Linked DNA regions of Homo sapiens: all the other regions are linked to region 3. Evidence: fine-mapped expression QTL. A gene starts in region 3. Each other region holds a variant in brackets. All regions are shown on one strand. Distances are between the middles of the regions.

Region 1 (6,484 bases), 56 kb before region 3:
GCAACCTCTGCCTCCCAGTTTGAAGCGATTCTCCTGCCTCGGCCTCCTGAGTAGCTGGGATTACAGGGGTGCGTGACCATGCCCAGTTAATTTTTGTATCTTTTAGTAGAGATGGGGTTTCGCCATGTTGACCAGGCTGGTCTCAAACTCTCGGCCTCAAGAAATCCACCTGCCTTGGCCTCCCAAAGTGCTGGGATTACAGGTGTGAGCCACTGTGCCCGGCCCCAAGGCCCCTTAGGAACACAGAGCAGTCAGGAAGGCCGGTCCGTGAACACCTAACTCCAGTACAAGCAAGAATGCGCACGGGAAGCTCGAAGAGGGAAGACAGTGCTGGGGGCGGTCTGGAGACAGAGGTTCATTTTGACTGAGGAGGCCGGGCAGGCTTCATGGAGAAAAGGGCACCTGAGCCAAGCTTTTCATTCATTTATTCATGCACGCATGCATTCATTCAGAAACTTTTTTTCTTTCACATCAGACGGATACCGTGCTGACATCATCACAAGGTTTGAGGGAGGTGCATCTTACCTATGTGTGTGAAAACCCAGTCATACTTAGGAATTACAAAAGGATCATTCAGAGGCATTTAGTAAGGGCCACCTAGGTGCCAGGCACTGTTCTGGAATCTGGGATACAGTCTTGAACAAAGTTTCTCCCCCTGTGTAGCCATATTCTGGTTGGGGGAGAAAAACAATCAACATTTAGTGTGTCCCATGGTGATGTGAACTAGGGTGAACATAAAGCCAGAGAGGGGACAGGGTGCAGGGGTGAGGGTGGTGCTATTTTTATGTGAGGTGGTCAGGGCAGGGCTCTCAAATAAGGCAAAATTTGAGCAGAGACCTGAAGGAAGTGAGGCAGCAAGCCATGTGGAGCCACAGAAAGGCCTGATGGTAGGGTTGTCTTGGTGTATTTGAGGCCTGGGATTACGACCGGCAGAAACAGAATTAGCCCAGACCTCTCAGCTAGGACTGAAGCACCGTGGAGAGGCCACCAGCTGTGGCTGAGACAGAGGAACAGGCTGAAGGGTGCTAAAAGATGTGGTAAGGATGGGCAGGTCACAGAGGGCCCTGAAGCCACTCTTCGAATGGACTTGGACTTCATGAGAGAGGTGGGAACTCGCCGGAGGAGTTTGAGCAGAGAAGTAATCCATTCCTGACTTAAGTAACAGTTTCCTTTTTTTTTTTTTTTTTCAGATGGAGTTTCACTCTTATCACCCAGGCTGGAGTGCAATAGCGCAATCTTGGCTCACTGCAACCTCTGCCTCCTGGGTTCAAGCGATTCTCCTGGCTGGCCCAGAGTGGTGGCAGTGGAGGCAGGGAGAAGTGTTCACATTCTGGGTACCTTTGAAGGTGAGCTTTGAAGATGCAACAGAATTTGACAGTAGAGATGTAGGGAGGAAGGAAGGCAGGACAGGTCAGACAGAAGTGCAGGAACAGCTCAGGCCTGGGGGAGATGAAACTGGGCAGGTCTGTAGGGGGTGTGGGAAGGCTGCAAAGGCCTGGGCGAGGGGCGTGGCTCCATACTGTCGGCAATGTGGCTTGCAGAAGGGGACACTTGATCAGAGCCACACTTTGAAGACGAACCAGGCAGCAGGGGGAAGCTGTGTCAGTGGGGAGAGCAGAGAGCAGCAGGGAGGCATGAGGCTGCTGTGGGTGCTCTGGCCACAGTTCTCCACGGTCCCACAGGCCCCAGAAAGGAAAAGGATCCTGCTCCCCTCCTGCCAGGCTGCGACATGGATAGCCCAGCTCACTGCATCTACCTGGCCTCATTCGGGGGGCTGGGAGGATTCACTCAAGGACCCTTCCATCAGGCTTCTGCCACTCTTGAAATCAAGCCAGTGGGACGCATTGGCCCCAGATAACGGCTTTCCTCTTGCAGAAGTAGAGCAAGCTAGGTCCGTCCCAGGGGGGGTTGCCAGGGTCAGGAAGGACCTTCTATGCCTAGGAATGGAGAGGGGGCTTGGTCAGGGAGGGAAGGCTGTCACTAGGACTGGCTTTCTCCACAGGCCAGCTGCTACCCACCTCCTCGGCTCTGCAAGACACTCCCAGACCTGCCTGTGTCCTATTCGTCTCCCCTCTGCAGACAGAGGCTCTCCTCAAGACTTTGTTCTGCAAAACCCCCACCACTACCCCTAAGAAGGCAAAAGGGCAACTGAGGCATGAAGCAGGGGGCACGCACGGGGGAGTCCCACATTCCTGATCTGACTCCCCAGGCATATTGTGCTGCTTCTGGGGAGCTTGCCACGGCCTGCCTCCTCCCGGGTTTGGGCCCTTGTTTATATCTGTTCACCTGTGCTTTCCCCTTCCCTGCAGAACAGCGATCAGAACCTGTTCATATCTGGGACCCCACAGTCCTTACCTAGGGCAGCTAGGTGTTCCCTGGCTGAATGAAGGGATGTGGAGTTTCCTGCTGGGTGGTGGGTAGGACAGGCTTGGAAGACAGGGGTGGAATTAAGTAAGGAAGCTCCAGAAGGACACAGGGCCATAGATACTCTCCCACCCAACTCCAGGCCACATCAGGAACACCTGCTAACATTTCCTGAACACTCTTTTTGAGCCAGGCCCTGTGTATTTTAGATGCGGTTTCATTTGATCTTCACAGGAGCCCTATGAGGTAGGCATCCCCAACCCCACTTTATAGATGCAAACAACTAAGGCACAGAGAAGTTATTTGTTCAAGGTCACATGGCTACTAAGCAACAAAACTAGGATGCAAAAGCAGATTTGTTCGACCCCACATGCTGTGTGCTTTGCTACAATCCACACTGTCTCCCAGGCCCCACAGAGCCCCAAATGCATGTGTCTCACCAGTTTCACCTGTGGCCACTGTGCTCAGCTATCCTCATCCTAAGACAATTGTAGTTATGGTTAAGGAAAGCCTTTTATTAAATTGCCAAACACCAGGGATGATGATTACTAATGATAACATGGTCAACAGCTCTCCTCCCGGTGAGCCTGGTGTTTCCATCATTGCCTTTCCACCCCCAGTAGAATCCTCTATTTGCGATCCTCCCAGCCACACCTTCAGGTTGGTAGTGCATGTGCCCTCCCCCTCCCCATCATGTCCTGTCCCATTCCGTTCCCCCTCCCTCCCCATCCTTCCTGGAGGCACCCCTAGCACCAACACCTGCCCATTTCCCCCCTACAGTTTCCTGCAAATATCTCCTTTCCCTCCCAGCAGCCAGCAGCATCTCCCCCTGGGGACTGGACTGATTGTTTCCCAGACTATGAGGAGCAGGGTCTGGAATTCTGACTCCAGGCGCACCCTTCTCTCTGCAAATTTGAG[G/A]AGTGGATTCCAAAGCAACTTTGAAATCCAGACACAGGAAAGCCTGTAGAAATACTGCATTTTGAAGAAGCTCTCCAATGATTAGAGTTTTGGAGATTTGTAAAATCCCACGTCTCAAGTTCCAGGCATACCCACACCCTCAAGATTCTGAGATAGTGATCCTGGCATTCTGATCTCAGGAATTCTGATTCCAGTTCCTTATGGAAACTTCTATTTTCCACTTCCTCAGGCCATTTGTATGACCTCAAACTTACTAATTTTGAAAGCTAGAAGTAGATTTAAAAATCTTTCCCCAGATAAGGCTGTAAAATTCCCAGAAATTTTGTGGGGAGAAAATGTTTTCATTAAAAATCCCAAATATGGGCTGGGCGCAATGGCTCCCACCTGTAATCCCAGCACTTTGGGAGGCCAAGGTGGGCAGATCATGAGGTCAGGAGTTGAAGACCAGCCTGACCAACATGATGAAACCCCATCTCTACTGAAAATACAAAAATTAGCTGGGTATGGTAGCAGGTGCCTGTAGTCGCAGCTACTCAGGAGGCTGAGGCAGGAGAATTGCTTGAACCCGGGAGGCGGAGGTTGCAGTGAGCTGAGATTGTGCCACTGCACCACTCCAGCCTAGGGAACAGAGCAAGAGCCCGTCTCAAAAAAAAAAAAAAAAAAAAAAAAGGCCGGGTGCGGTGGCTCATGCCTGTAATCCCAGCACTTTGGGAGGCTGAGGTGGGCAGATCATGAGGTCAGGAGTTTGCAACCAGCCTGACCAACACGGTGAAACCCTGTTTCACCATGCTGAGATCATGCCATTGCATTCCAGCCTGGGTGACAGAGCGAGACTCCGTCTCAAAAAAAAAAAAAAAAAAAAAAAAAAAAGAAAATTATTTAGATACCTTCATGTTTGGGATTTTTTTTTCTTTTTCTTTTTTTTGTTTTTTGAGACGGAGTCTCACTCTGTCGCCCAGGCTGGAGTGCAATGGCTGCGATCTCGGCTTACTGCAACCTCCCTCTCCCGGCTTCAAGCAATTTTCCTGCCTCAGCCTCCTGAGTAGCTGGGATTACAGGCGCTTACCACCGTGCCCAGCTAATTTTTGTATTTTTAGTAGAGATGGCGTTTCACCATGTTGGCCAGGCTGGTCTCGAATTCCTGACCTCAGGAGAGCCACCTGCCTCAGCCTCCCAAAGTGCTGGGATTACAGGCGTGAGCCACCGCACCTGGCCTAAATATTTTTCAATCTCATTATTTTAATGCAACGTGCAGAGCAATGGTAACTTACTTGGCACATTATCTAAACTGCGACCAAGGTTTAGGATATTAGAGATGTGAATGCCCCAAAAGGCACAAACACAAGATCCCCACCCCACCCTCCAGCACCATGTTTTTCTAGTTATCCTGCCTTTATATCTGCATTTCTTAGACTGTGAGTGGAATCCTGCGCCTGAAGCTTCTGGGCGTGTGGGGTGGTCTGGGGAGGAGAGGGTGAATTGCACAATGTCTGCTCGGAAGCTCGGGAAATTCCCAGGCTTAGGCTCTCCCCACAACCTGGCCTGTGGCCAGGGCTCTCACAATTCCCATCCCCAACATTACTGTCCCTAAACTGGGGCTTGAGGTCCTGACCCATGGCCAGGCTGGTAGTAGGAAGGGGACAGGGGGCCTCGGAGGCCTGTCTTCTTCCCTGCCTCTCAGTGTCCCTGGGGCTGAACAGTGCTTGCTAGGCACCACCCTCCCCTGGGGCCAGGAAGGAAGGGGTAGAGGGAGGCAGGAGGGCAGAGTGAGCGGGGGAGGGTCGACGGAGACAAATCACTGGAAAAGTGGGCAGAGTCAGTTGGGTCAGATTTCACAGCCTGGGGCTTCCACACGGGCCAGGCTTTGGTTAGAAGGAAAGGGACATACTGGAATCCAACAGGGTTGGGACTCTTGCTTGGGACAGAAGAACCTAACTTGACTGGTGAGGAGTTGGATGCTGGGGAGTGGGACAAGGACATACGAAAGGAGTTGGCGGTTTTAAATGTCAGACGGTGGGAGGCATTCCTTCTCTCCGGCACTTGCCATCGGAGCCCGGGCATCTGCTGACCTCACCCCCGGACAGGGACGGTCTTCCCAGCCCTGGCTCCTGCACTATCCCCCTGTCCAGCTTCCTGGTCTCCAGCCCATTCTGTGGCACTTTGCTCCAGATGTCCTCTCACGCCCTCCTTCCGTGGCCACCCTGGCCCGCCTCTCCGATCCTCCTTCCCCAGCTTATCCCAATTGTCCAGCCCCCCAAATCCCTCAGGCCCCCCAACTCAGTGGCTTCTCCAGTCCGTCTCCTCGATCCCTCTTCCCTTAGACCAAGCCCCTTCCTAACCGCCACGCCCACCCCCAGCTCCAGCCCCCGCCTCCCAGTCCCCTCTCCCAGCGCGCCCGCCTCCCGAGCCCGCACGCTTCGGAGCCCGGGCACTAACCCGATTCGGAAGAGCAGCCGCTGGCTGTGCGCCATGAGCAGACCGCGGAGGCCCCGCCGCGCTCGGCAGCCGCGGGGGCTCACAAGTAGGACGAGGACAAGGACGAGGAGGAGCCAGCAGCCGGCGACCCACTGCCACGCCGCGGGCCAGCCCTGCCAAGCCATGCTGGGGGCAGGCACGCGCCGGCCGGGCGGGGCTCGGCGTTGCTAGGCAACGGCCCGGCCCCGGCCCCCCGCGGGGAACCTGCCTGCCGGCTCTGGACGTGGGGGCGTTGTGGCCCCGCCCCGCCCATTGACCTCTCCTTTGGACCCGCCCCCTCACCACCTCCAGCCGGGCAAGCACCCCGAAGGCCACCCGGCTTGGGGGGCGGCCTGGCTCCGCCCGGCTGGCGGCCAGGAGGCGGGGCCACAGCGGGCCGCGAGCCTGCGCTGATCGGGGTCCACAGTCGCCTGAGCCCTGGGAAGGGGCAGGAGCTCGCAGTTCGCCCCGCCCGCCTCCCCGTCCAGGGCACTGCTACACTTTCTCAACTGGCAGAAACCTGAGAGATCATCGGGGTCAGCTGCCATTCATGGATTTATTCATTCGCCGAATTACTTTTCTAGCTCCTCCTATGTACTTGGCACTCTGCCAGGCTCTGAGGAGGATGCAAGGGTCAAAGGCACACTGTCTGCATTCCTGGAGCCCACAGTCCGGAATCTAGTGAGGCGACGAACCAAATAAGCGAGCAAACAAAATTATATCTGTTTATGCATACACATACATATGC
Region 2 (6,484 bases), 47 kb before region 3:
GTGCCCCATAAATATGTACAATTATTGTGTGTCAATTAAAAATAGTAATAAAAGCAAAAAAGAGTAGGGCCAAGGATTTAATTTATTCATCTTCAACTCTCCAGTGTCTGGCATAGTGCCAGGTACATATTACATACTCACAAACGTTCTTTGAAATGTCAGACTCCTAACCGTATCCCACAAAGCCCCTGCTCAATAGGGCCCAGCCTGTCTCTTCAACCTCCTCAGATGCCTTTCCCTTGTCACCACGGACCAGCCACACTTCCTCAAATGTGCCACGCTCATTCCCACCTCAGGGCCTTTGCCTATGCTCTCTCCCCTTGGAACATTCCTTCCCCAGTTCTCTGAATTGGAGGCAGCTTCTTAGCTGTTGGGTGTCAGCTCAAACGCCAACCCCTCCATGTGGAAATAACCTGTATCTTGAGCTGAGTGCTGGCTACATGGCATATGCCAGTGGCTTTCAACAGTGGCGATTTCGCCTCCCAGAAGATATATGGCAATGTCTGGGGACATTTTTGATGGTCACAACTGTGTGGGGAGGAATGTTACTGACATTTAGTGGGTAGAGGCCAGGTATGCTGCTAAACATCCTATAATACACAAGACGGGGCCGAGCGCGATGGCTCACGCCTGTAATCCCAGTACTTTGGGAGGCTGAGGTGGGCAGATCACGAGGTCAGGAGTTTGAGACCAGCCTGACCAATACAGTGAAACCCTGTCTCTACTAAAGATACAAAAATCAGCCAGGTATGGTGGTGTGTGCCTGTAATCCCAGCTACTCAGGAGGCTGAGGCAGGAGAACTGCTTGAACCTAAGAGGCGGAGGTTGCAGTGAGCCGAGATCATGCCAGGGCACTCCAGCCTGGGCGATAAAGCAATACTCCATCTCAAAAAAAAAAAAAAAAAAAAAAGACAAACAAGAAAGACAGTCCCCAGGACAAATGGCCCCAATGTCTGCAGTACAGAGGTTGAGAGTCTGACATACGCAAATTGAAAAACTCACCAAGTTGTACATTAAAGATTTGTGCATGGCCAGGTGCAGTGGTTCACGCCTGTAATCCCAACACTTTGGGAGGCTGATGAGGGCGGATCACAAGGTCAGGAGTTCGAGACCAGCCTGGCCAACATAGTGAAACCCCGTCTCTACTAAAAATACAAAAGTTAGCCGGGTATGGTGGCACAAGCCTCTTGTCTCAGCTACTCGGGAGGCTGAGGCAGGAGAGTCACTTGAACCCAGGAGGCGGAGGTTACAGTGAACCGAGATCATACCATTGCACTCCAGCCTGGGCGACAGAGCAAGACTCTGTCTCAAAAAAAAAAAAAAAAAAAAAAGAAAAAAAAAAAGAAAAGATTTGTGCACTTTACTATATGTAAAGTATACATCAAATTAAAGAAAAAATGTTACTCCCTCTATGAGGCCTTTGCTCACCACCTCCTCACTCTCTACTCTATTACTAATATTACTGTGCTTACGTCCTTCACTTTCATAGCACTTTTCACAATGTGATGTTATTTTGTGGATCTTTTCTGTCACTCCCACTGGAATGTTAGCCCCATGAAGTCAGGGAGGGACCTGTGTTGGCACCACTGTATTCCCAGTGGTGTGAATAATACCTGGCCCAGAGCAGGTGTTCAGTTAAGTATCTGCTGAATGAATGAGTGAATGACAGAAACAAGGCATGAATGAATGACAATTTATGTTTTGCCACCAAGCACTGTGACTGTCCAGAGACTGGAGCCCTCTTGCTCTGACTAGTGGGCTCAGTGCCCACAGGAGAGCTGTACAGAAGCCAAACCCCACTCAGAAGGGTGGATCATGGAAGGGAGTCAGAACAAGCCTGGTGGCGGCAGGCGCTTCATAATATCAGAGGAAGCTGCAGGAGAACCATGGCTAAAGAACCCATGCACTCCAGGGCTTTGGCCGTGACTTCTCCCCTGAGCAGCTTGAGGCGCACTGCCAAGGCTAAAGTTTGCCTCTGCCACTCTCTTAGGAGAGACACCTTCATAACCCGAGTCGGGTGCCTGGCGATCATGCAGGTCTGGCCTGTGATGTGGGTTCCTGGGTTGGGGTGGGGGTTCTTGTGTCTCCTCCTTGTTCCACCTGTCATCCCAGGCTGCCTGTCCCTGGTGTCTGAATCTTGCCTTCCCTACTGGCCTGAGAGGTTCCCTTAGAATGGAGAGCCTGCCTCCATCTTTGCACCGTGGCTCACGCTTGATGACTGGTGCTTGGTTGGCATTCAGGAAATCACTGGTGGTGATGATGATGATGATGACAGTGACGATGGTGATGATGACGAAACAATCATGAAGGAGCTGAGATGGTTGGAGCTGTTTAAATGTTAGAGAAAAGAGACATCTTGTCAGACCTGGGTGGAGAAATTAGTTCAGTTTAGAAAAGTGAACCCAGTGCAGAAGTGGTGACTGGGATAATCTGGCCTCTGCTTAGCCCAGTCCATCCCCTCATCTGTTATCCCCAACCAAAGCTCACTTTCCCTCGTGGACCATTTTCTCATGAACTCCTGTCCGAGCCATTTTGCTGTACCCTGCAGAACCCTGGTTTGGTCTGAAACAAATCCTTCCCCAACGTCCTCTGCCTTCTCACAGAGCTCCCAGCCTGTCTGGACTGAATATGATCCCTGTCTTCTATTCCCTACCTTCTCTCTCACTGCCCTGCCTTCTGCAGTGGAAGCCTTTAGTCTCCTACATTGTCTCCAGGTTGGAAAGGAATGCACTAGCAATAGTCCAGGCCAAGGCCATTGCTCTTCCTGACTCATGTACAAACTTCTTTCCACCCCTCCTCATCAGTCCCATACACTGATCAGCCCAGACTCTCTAAGGATTTCAACACCTGTTTTTAGTCTTCCTGCCTGATTCCTGCCATCAGGTAATTCCAACAAGCATGGCTCATTCAACATCATAGCACAGCAGTTTTCAAGTGTTAGGGAGCCTAGGAACCACTCAGGGAGCTTGTAAAAATACGGAATTCTGGTCCGTCCCCCAGAGATTCAAACTTAGTAGGTTTGGCTGGGGCCCAAGAGTGTGCATTTCGCATAGGTGGTTCTGAACTCTGCCTTGACCTCAGTTCCTGACTTCAATTCCAATGCCTTCGACATAATTCAGCAGCTTGCTCACATGGCCACACCCTAGATTCACCTGGAACTTCTCTGCCTCTGAGAACCTAAATTCCAATGTCCTTTTCCCTGATCCCCTCCCATCCCCAGTACACATGGACCTCCAGTTCCAGCTCCTCAGGCAGTTTGTTTTCTTCCAGCCCTTCAGCCCCTCTTGCACCTATATTTGAACTTAGGCTCAATCCCTTGAACTACTTACCACCTGTTAGCTTCCTGATCCCCTGACCCCCTTGACCTCCAGCCTTAACCTACCAACCTTCAGACCTACCTGAACCAACCTGACAGTCTCCTACCTCACGGGCAGGGCTGAAGAAAACTGCTGTGTCATATGACTCAGGGCTGCGATGGTTCAGGCCATCCCAAGTCCCTGATACCAGTGCTTGGCAGTTCC[G/A]TTTTGCTGAGGCCCCATCTCATCTGCAGTTGTTATTCCAAACCTCAAGCCCCAACGTCATTTCCTTTACTTTCAACAAATATCCTTCTTAGAGAAAACAATTTCTGTGACTACCTACCCCTCTACATATTTTGCAATTTTCCTCAGCCTAAGAGCAAATTCCAGCATCTCCCTGCCTTAAAAACTTCCTGGCCGGGCACAGTGGCTCACGCCTGTAATCCCAGCACTTTGGGAGGCCAAGGCAGGCGGATTGCCTGAGCTCAGGAGTTCGAAACCAGCCTGGGCAACAAGGTGAAACCCTGTCTCTACTAAAAATACAAAAAATTAGCTGGATATGGTGGCGGGTGCCTGTAATCCCAGCTACTTGGGAAGCTGAGGCAGGATAATCACTTGAACCTGGGAGGTGGAGGTTGCAGTGAGCTGAGATCGTGCCACTGCACTCCAGCCTGGGTGACAGAGTGAGACTCTGTCTCAAAAAAAAAAAAAAAAAAAGAAAGAAAGAAAAAAATCTTCCCTTGACCTTGTGCCATTTTCTAGACTCCATTCTGCCTTTATCTCAACACAATCTAGTTTCCTGAAAGGCTGTCTCCAAAGGTGTGGTAGATGGCATTTCAGTTTCCAGTTATTCATCTCTCACTGTAAACATACCGTTCACCCTGTGACTGTGCATCACTTCAATGGAGGCGAGGTATATTTTCCCACGCCACTGATGTTGCTGGTCTAAGGGAGATGAAAGGCACATGGAGCCACCTGGATCCCACTCACAGCTTGGAAGTCAACCCAGCCCAGCAGAGCCCAAGCTAGATCAGCTAAAGCTCAGCCTGCCCACAGATGCATGAGCAAGATACATGCTTATGATTGTAGGCTTCTGAGTTTTGAACTGGCTTCTTATGCAGCATTACTGCAATAATAGTTAACAGTGACAGAGGGAAACAGAATATTAATGATGCTGGAAAGACATGATGGATGAGTGACTAGCTATTTACAAAAGAGCAATTTAGACTCGTGCCTCACAGAATCCACCAAAATAAATTCTACCCGAATTAAAGGGTTAAGGATATAAAATTAAACCACAGAAAATTAGAAGAAAATGAAAGACATGTTCAATCTGGATAGCAGAGGATTTTCTAAAGCTAAAAATAACAAATGCGTCATTCTAATTTTCCTTAATAGGCGTATGTTATTCTTAAAGGCATTTATTATTCCTATTATTCCTTAAAGGCATACATTATTCAGAAAAAAGCAACAGAAGATCTAACAAGGGAAATAATTACTGTTTTAGTTACTTTAAAATTTAAATCCTTGGCCGGGCGCCATGGCTCATGCCTGGAATCCCAGCACTTTGGGAGGCCGAGGCGGGTGGAGGCCGAGGTGGGTGGATGACGAGGTCAAAGAGATTGAGACCATCCTGGCCAACATGGTGAAACCCCGTCTCTACTAAAAATACAAAAATTAGCTGGGCGTGGTGGCGCGTGCCTGTAGTCCCAGCTACTTGGGAGGCTGGGGCAGGAGAATAGCTTGAACCTGGGAGGCAGAGGTCACAGTGAGCTGAGATCACGCCACTGCACTCCAGCCTGGTGACACAGCAAGACTGTCTCAAAAAAGAAAGAAAGAAGAAAGAAAGAAAGAAAGAAAGAAAGGAAGGAAGGAAGGAAGGAAGGAAGGAGAGAGAGAGAGAGAAAGAAAGGAAGGAAGGAAGGAAGAAAGAAAGAAAGAAAGAAAAAGAAAGAAAGAAAGAAAGAAAGAAAAAGAAAGAAAGAAAGAAAACCTCAGGCGGGCATAGTGGCTCATGCCTGGCATCCCAGCACTTCGGGAGACTGAAGCAGGTGGATCACTTGAGGCCAGGAGTTCAAGGCCAGCCTGTCCAAAGTGGTGAAACCAAGTCTCTGCTAAAAATACAAAAATTAGCAGGGCATGGTGGCAGGCGTCTGTAATCCTAGCTACTTGGGCACTGAGGCACAAGAAATCGCTTGAACCCAGGAGGTGGAGGTTCCAGTAAGCCGAGATCGCCCCATTGCACTCCAGCCTGGGCGACAGAGTGAGACTCTCTCAAAAAGAAAAAAAAAAACGAACTTAAATATACTTGATCTTAGCCAAAAGGCCAAGGAGTGATTACAGACCTTAAATAAATGTGAAAACACAATGACCTCAATTAATAAATTAATAAATGGCTAATAAATATGAAAAAATGTGAAAACTCAAAAGAATCAAGAAAATCCAAGTATAGCCAGGCATGGTGGCTAACTTGCACCCAAAGTACAAGTAATCCCAGCACTTTGGGAGGCCAAGGTGGGAGGATCGCTTGAGCCCAGGAGTTCCAGACCAGCCTGGGCAACAGAGGGAGACCTCATCTCTACAAAAAATTTAAAAAATCAGCCAGGCTTGGTGGTACACGCCTGTGCTTCCAGCTGCTCAGGAGGCTGAGGTAGGAGGATCTCTTGGGCCTGGGAGGTAAAGGCTGCAGTAAACTGTGATCATGTCACTGCACTCCAGCCTGGGAGACAGAGACTCTGTCTCAAAAAAAAAAAAAAAAAAAAAGCCAGGGCGCGGTGGCTCACGCCTGTAATCCCAGCAATTTGGGAGGCAGAGGCAGGCAGATCACCTGAGGCTGGGAGTTTGAGACCAGCCTGACCAACATGGAGAAACCCTGTCTCTACTAAAAATACAAAAAATTAGCCGGGTGTGGTGGCACATGCCTGTAATCCCAGCAACTCAGGAGGCTGAGGTAGAAGAATCGCTTGAACCTGGGAGGCGGAGGTTGTGGTGAGCTGAGATTGCGCCACTGCACTCCAGCCTCAAGAGCGAAACTCCAGCAACAAGAGTGAAACTCCGTCTCAAAAAAAAAAAAAAAAAAAAAGAAATAAAGAAAATGCAGTTAAACAACGAGATTTGATTTTCACTTAACCAAAATGCCAATATTAAAAACAAGAATAAAATCCTGAAGTTCTAAGAATATGGGAAGT
Region 3 (6,484 bases):
TTTGGACTCAGTAAAGAGCAGTGCTTTTTTTTGCCTCCACACCCTGAATACCTTCTTTGATTCTCTTTATTGTTTCAAGGCTGAGCGGGACCCCACCCTCCTGGCCGGCAGCTCTGAGGGCTTGGTCCCGAGGGCCCGGGGCCTAGGCTGGTTGCACTTAAGTCTCTGGGTTTGCCCCACCATCCAGCTGGGAACACTGAGCTCTGTGAGAGGGAGCACACATGAGTAACCAGCCCCACCCTCTGCCCCTCCCATCCCAAGGGACTCACAAACCCAGACCTGGTTCCTTTCTACTAAACACTCAATAACTTTATTTGCCTTTGGCTGGCTCCTTGGTGTGGGGCAGGGTAGGGTTTGGCAACAGCCTGGGCTTCATGCGCCCTCTGGTGGACCTCAGAGGCACGAACTGGAATCTGGGCCAAACCTGAGGACTTAACAGTCAATAGCCTAGGAGGGTCGCAGCGCTCCTCAGGTCTGCACCCCAGACCCAACATCAGGGGACGGGGCACTCTGGGAGGAAGCCCTGAACCTCTGGCTCTCATACTCGCCCGTGTTGGACAACCGCATGTTCTGCCGAGCCTTCATCTGCTTCACACGGTCCTTGTCCACTTCCCGCTTGGTGAGGATGAAGAGGAGGATACCACAAGGGAAGCCGATGGCCCTACGGGTGGGGAGATGTGCACGGGGTTTGGGGAGGGGCCAAGCCTGAGCCAGAGGAGCTGGGGGGAGTCATTCTAGCTTCATCAGTTGCATGAATGCTGCAATACCTCTTATAGTCTATTCATCCTCTGTGCTGGCTGCTGGAGGGACCCACACAAATCAGATCCTGTCACTTCCCTGCTTAAAACCCCGTAACTCCATCACTTCCTGGCCAAGTCCAAACATGGCACAAAAGGCCCAGTGTGGCTGGGTCTCTGCCTGCCTCTTTCCTCCTCCCGCCTAGAGCCTGATCCTCAGCACGAGCCCTGCATTCCTGCAACAGCACCTGTGCAGGATTTTCCAGGCAGCCCTGACGCTTTCCCTCTCTGAGACTTGGCCAAGGTACCCTCCCAGTTTTCCCCTCTTAAGCTAAGTAACCACTGCTTGGGAGGCACTTTGGTATGGGGGAAAGAGCATGGAGTCACAGACTAGGTGAGAATCCTAGCTCAGTCTCAGTTCCTTCCTCTGTGAAATGGGGATGTAATACTTATCTCAAACACTAAAACATTACATGGCAAAGTACTGGCACACCTCACATGCAGAAAAAAATGTTGATTTCTTCCTCCTTTCTCTTTAATATTGGTCAATAATATGTATTAAGGTCAGAGTCAGAGCCCAATCACAATGTTCATAACGCCTTCTGAGTACTACTATACAACTAGTACAAGCTCACATGATCTCAACGAACTACTTACTTAAACTTGGGTCTCACTCCAAGCTCCCAAAAGGGAGGATGAGGCCAGGGACCCAAGTCTGAATCAGATCAACTCAGCTTACTCCACAGTAAACCCACTGTCTTCTCAATTCCACATACTTTCCCACCTCCACTGCCCCACCCCTCTGAGATTCCAATCGAACCCAACAATTCTGTTCCCACAACTTTGGATTCAGCTCGCCACCTGAAACTTGGAGAAGTTTCTAAGTCCTGCCCTCCCCTACAAGCCACGCCCCGTTGGTGGGCAAAGGGGTGGTTAAAACTCACCAGGCCAGTCCCACAGCTTTCATGGGGTTCTTGCCCCTCTTTCTGGGAATGTATTCCAGCTCCGGGGATAGGGGTTCAGGTTCCTCCTTGCCCTCTGGGGAGCTGTGGCTTTGCAGGGCCCGGGTCCTGTTATGAGAAGCCTTGTTAGCTGTGGCTCCTGCGAGAATCCCTGTGGATGGAGGTAAGGAAGGTCAGTAAGAAGAGATGAGAAGAAAGCAAGCGGGGAGGTGGGGGGCAGTAAGGGCTTGGGAGGAGCGGCTGAGATCTGGGGAAGGGGAGTGACTGCAGTCTGAAGTAAGAAGTGCCAAGGAGAATCCAAAGGGAAATGGGAAAATCGCCACCGAGGTGGCACCTTTGGAAGCCACTTCCACGTCACTGCGGGCTCATCACCCTGGTGCCAGGACGAAAAGCTTCGCTGTTCTTCCTCAGACGACAGCATGGGAAGGACTGCAGTGGGACTCACATAAGACGTATGAAGGAAATCCGGGAAAAGGTTTTGAAACTGCAAATGTTAGCACTGGAAGGGACCTTAAAGATAGTCTACTCCATCCCTTGCACTGTACGGAAGAGGAAACTGAAGCCCTGAGAGAAAAACTGCTTTGCCCAAGGTCAAACTGCTAATTATCCGGGGCTGGAACTCAAACCTCCAGAAGCCCGGGGCTCTTTCCTCTGCACTGCGGTGAGTGTGAAACACCTGGAGCGCGGGAGTCCAACAGGCTTCCTAGGAGCTCCCTCTTGCAGCAAGACCCCGGAGGTGTCGAGCAACCCGAAGGCGGGGGGATGCACTGGGTGACCTCTAAAGAGCATCTCTGCACCCCCAGACTCTAAGATCTTGCAGAAAAGTGTGGGGAGGAACCAAGAGCCCTGACCTCCTGCTATCGTCGGGCTGGACGTGAAAGAAAAGGGATCTTCTGCAGTCCTGCCCTCCCCGGGGTCCCTCTCCTTACCCCGGAGGACGCGGGCATTTCTCGCCCCCCGGCCCTTCAGCGCCGTAGCAGCTACCACCGCCGCCATGTTCAGATCCCACCCCCGCTTCACCGCGCTCCCCGCCGGGAATTGTAGTTTGCGTAAGGGGCCTCCCCCGCTCCTTCCGTCCTGCCTACAGACCAGAAACTACATCTCCCAGAAGCCCGCAGAGCGGACCCAGGAGAACTACTCTTCCCAGGAGACCCCGGAGGCGCGCGCGCTCGCTTGTTTCCCTCCAGTTGGGGGCGGAGTCAGGTGGGGCGGAGTTTGGGTTCTCTCCGCCACGCCCCGGCCCCATCTTCCAATGCCGCTCTGTGATTGGTGAGGCGGCCAGCCAACCTTCGTAGCTATTGGCCGAACGGCCGTCGCTCTTCCTGCTGGGGAGTCGCCTACGCCTACTTCCTGCCGGGAGGAGGGGCTCGAGTTCCGCGTCGTCGCGCAGAGCTGACTCTGGGAGGCGTTTGGGCCCAGAGAAGTGGATCCGCCGCTTGCGCCGCATGGAGTCCGAATCGGAAAGCGGGGCTGCTGCTGACACCCCCCCACTGGAGACCCTAAGCTTCCATGGTGATGAAGAGATTATCGAGGTGGTAGAACTTGATCCCGGTCCGCCGGACCCAGGTGAGAACTGCCGCTCCTCAGGCCATGGGACAGGAGACGCTCACCCCTGGCCTCTGACTCCTGCTTTTCCCCGCTCCCCTCCACACCCGACTGGTCATTCCTACCGATATCCCTCTTCCCCTCCTCCCCCACTCCCACCCTCACACTTAGTTCTCAGGCCTGGCTGGGGTGGGGGTTCCCTGACGCCTCCTCTGGCCCTTCCCCTCACACACCCCCTTCCCATCATCCCCTTGGCCCTCCCTTACCGCACGGTCTCTGGCCAGCCGTGGCCTCCCGTCCTGTGTCCCGCGCGCCCCCGCGGACCCCGGTGTGTCTGACTCCACCTTCCCTTCTCGCCACATGACCCGCCCCAGCCTCAGGCCTCCTCATGCTTCTCTCCGTACCTCTTACCGCCTCCCGAGCCCCATCTTCTAACCCTCTCCCCAAAGCAGATGACCTGGCCCAGGAGATGGAAGATGTGGACTTTGAGGAAGAAGAGGAGGAAGAGGGCAACGAAGAGGGCTGGGTTCTAGAACCCCAGGAAGGGGTGGTCGGCAGCATGGAGGGCCCCGACGATAGCGAGGTCACCTTTGCATTGCACTCAGGTAGGTCTTTGAGGCGATCCACCTCAAATCAGTTTAGGTGGGCGTGTAAGCATTAAACATCAGCCATGGACAGAACGTTATGGGGGACACAGAGATGGGCAAGATGCTGGCCTTGCGCTGGAGGAGCCCACAGGTGGGAAAGTGTGGCAGAATGGATGATTGCTTGGCTTCTGGCATCAGTCGAGACACCCTCTACTTTGCCAGTTAACCTTGATTAACCTCTTAGTTTTCTTTTAAAAAGTTATCTTTGGCCGGGCGTGGTGGCTCACTCCTGAAATCCCAGCACTTTAGGAGGCTGAGGCAGGTGGATCACTTGAGGTCAGGAGTTCGAGACCAGCCTGGCCAACATGGCAAAACCCAGTCTCTACTAAAAATACAAAAATTTGGCTGGGCATGGTGGCTCACGCCTGTAATCCCAGCACTTTAGGAGGCCCAGGCAGGCGGATCACAAGGTCGGGAGTTCCAGACCAGCCTGGCCAATATGGTGAAACCCCGTCTCTACTAAAAATACAAAAATTAGCTGGGCGTGGTAGCGGGCGCCTGTAGTCCCAGCTCCTCGGGAGGTTGAGGCAGGAGAATTGCTTGAACCCGGGAGGCGGAGGTTGCAGTGGACCAAGACTGCGCCATTGCACTCCAGCCTGGGCAACAGAATGAGAGTCTGTCTCCAAAAAAAAAAAAAAAAAAAAAGTTATCTTTGATAAAAGTTAATAAAAGTAGTGAGTATAAAATTAGAGATAATTGGCCAGGTGCGGTGGCTCATGCCTGTAATCACAGCACTTTGGAAGGCCAAGGCGGGTGGATCACCTGAGGTCGGGAGTTCAAGACCAGCCTGGCCGACATGGTGAAACCTCATCTCTACTAAAAATAAAAAAAAAATTAGCTGGGTGTGGTGGCATGTGCCTGTAATCCCAGCTACTCCGGAGGCTGAGGAAGGAGAATCACTTGAACCTGGGAGGCAGAGGTTGCATTGAGCTGAGATTGTGCCACTGCGCTTCGGCCTGGGCGACAGAGCAAGATTCCATCTCAAAAAAATAAAATAAAATGAGAGATAATTATATCTTTTTGAGCATATTTTATATAACTTTCTCAAGTGCTAGTTCTTAGTAAGAAACTGTTGCCAGGCACGGTGGCTCATGCCTGTAATCCCAGCACTTTGGGAGGCCGAGGCGGGTGGATCAGAAGGTTAGGAGTTCGAGACCAGCCTGACCAACATGATGAAACCCCATCTCTACTAAAAATACAAAAATTAGCTGGTTGTGGTGGCGGGCGCCTGTAATCCCAGCTACTCAGGGGGCTGAGGCAGGAGAATTGCTTGAACCTGGGAGGTGGAGGTTGCAGTGAGCTGAGATTGTGCCACTGCACTCCAGCCTGGGCGACAGAGCAAGACTCTGTCTCAAAAAACAAAAAACAAAAAACAAAAAACCCTTAACGTGATGCTCTCCTCGCTCTGTACCCAACCCCGGTGGCATCCCATGCTGACAACTGTAAGCCCTGCACCTGTCCCCACCTCTTGTCCATGGCATTGGTGTTGGGTGGTGACGGGAGTCACACAGTGAGGGGATCTACTCTGGCAAATAGGGAGCTTGGCAAATATGGGAAGGATCTAACAACCCAATTCTTGAAACTTAGAAGAACTTGGATGTACCTGTGTTTTCCAGGAGGAAAGACACGCTTTGGGTGAAAGGGGGTGGGTTTCCTGAAGATTGTGAAGGACAGAGCCCTAGGTGGGAGCTCTGTCCCCTTACCCATGGAATATCTCTTGGGACAGCATCTGTGTTTTGTGTGAGCCTGGACCCCAAGACCAATACCTTGGCAGTGACCGGGGGTGAAGATGACAAAGCCTTCGTATGGCGGCTCAGCGATGGGGAGCTGCTCTTTGAGTGTGCAGGTGAGGGGGCTGGGGTAGAGGCCTGGGAGAGGTCATATTCTTTTGGGAGATCTTAGGAGGCTGACCTGCAGAGGTTGTGCATCCAACAGCCACTTAGTGACATCTCTTTTGTGCCAGCTCTGTGCTGGGCCCCAGGGACACGGGGCGAATACTAGTGTGTTTTGGGCACAGAGGCAGGAGGCACTAATTGGCCAAGGGAATCCAGGAAAGGCCAGAGAAGGCCACATTGGTATAGGAGCAGGCGGGCAGAGGTGTAGAGTGGACAGAAGGGGGAAGGCATAGGAGGCTGGGACTTGGTCTGGTTGAGTGAGGGCCAGCAGTGTCTCCCAGCAGACATGGGAGTATTGGTTCCTAGAGTGGTGGTGAGTTCCAGCACCTGTTCTGCTCAGTCCCGCCCCTCTTTTTTTCCTAGCTGGTCCTTTCAGTGGGCCAGATACCAGAATCACATGCCCCCAGCACCAGGTACCCTATTTTTTTCCTCTGTTTTCTGCCCACTTTTCTTTGAAGGCCATAAAGACTCTGTGACTTGTGCTGGTTTCAGCCATGACTCCACTCTAGTGGCCACAGGGGACATGAGTGGCCTCTTGAAAGTGTGGCAGGTGGACACTAAGGAGGAGGTCTGGTCCTTTGAAGCGGGAGACCTGGAGGTAAGATCATCAGAGCGGGAGTCAGCTCTGTGGGGCCTTGGGTTGTTGGGGGTGCAAGCTTGGGAGGCCAGTTCTGCCTTTATTGCGCCAAGCCAGCTCT

Which allele goes with the higher level. Positions count from the first base shown, and alleles are read on the strand shown. Sizes are in standard deviations (SD) of each study's normalised expression. Not every link is listed here.
For the expression in lung of the gene that starts at base 2,712 in region 3, G is the low allele of the variant in region 1 and A is the other (small effect, 0.27 SD a copy in GTEx).

Evidence for each region. PIP is the estimated chance that this variant, and not a neighbour inherited with it, causes the effect.
Region 1: its variant is fine-mapped to the expression of PNKD in lung (TOPMed, PIP above 0.99).
Region 2: its variant is fine-mapped to the expression of PNKD in whole blood (TOPMed, PIP above 0.99).

Annotation. Positions count from the first base shown.
Region 1 is chr2:218,322,666-218,329,149 of GRCh38, reverse strand. The region is part of intron 2 of PNKD (PNKD metallo-beta-lactamase domain containing); the gene reads right to left. CATIP-AS2 (CATIP antisense RNA 2) reads left to right here. Exons shown (of 4, transcript NR_125777.1): 3 at 1,191-1,346; 4 at 2,003-2,909. LOC124906179 (small nucleolar RNA U13) reads right to left here and starts at 570; the gene lies at 470-570. RefSeq lists enhancers at 1,897-2,641, 5,677-6,272 and a silencer at 5,755-6,274. The variant G/A (reference allele first, on the strand shown) is at 3,283.
Region 2 is chr2:218,313,798-218,320,281 of GRCh38, reverse strand. All of the region lies in intron 2 of PNKD (PNKD metallo-beta-lactamase domain containing), which reads right to left. All of the region lies in intron 1 of LOC105373881 (a long non-coding RNA gene), which reads left to right. LOC105373880 (a long non-coding RNA gene) reads right to left here and starts at 3,532. Exons shown (of 2, transcript XR_923909.3): 1 at 3,399-3,532; 2 at 65-2,327. The variant G/A (reference allele first, on the strand shown) is at 3,522.
Region 3 is chr2:218,266,747-218,273,230 of GRCh38, reverse strand. It overlaps PNKD (PNKD metallo-beta-lactamase domain containing), which reads right to left and starts at 2,712. Exons shown (of 10, transcript NM_015488.5): 1 at 2,629-2,712; 2 at 1,682-1,850. The coding sequence starts at 2,695. AAMP (angio associated migratory cell protein) reads left to right here and starts at 3,094. Exons shown (of 11, transcript NM_001087.5): 1 at 3,094-3,265; 2 at 3,697-3,849; 3 at 5,618-5,737; 4 at 6,245-6,384. The coding sequence starts at 3,145. RefSeq lists enhancers at 2,418-2,467, 2,498-2,877, 3,028-3,347, 3,916-4,801.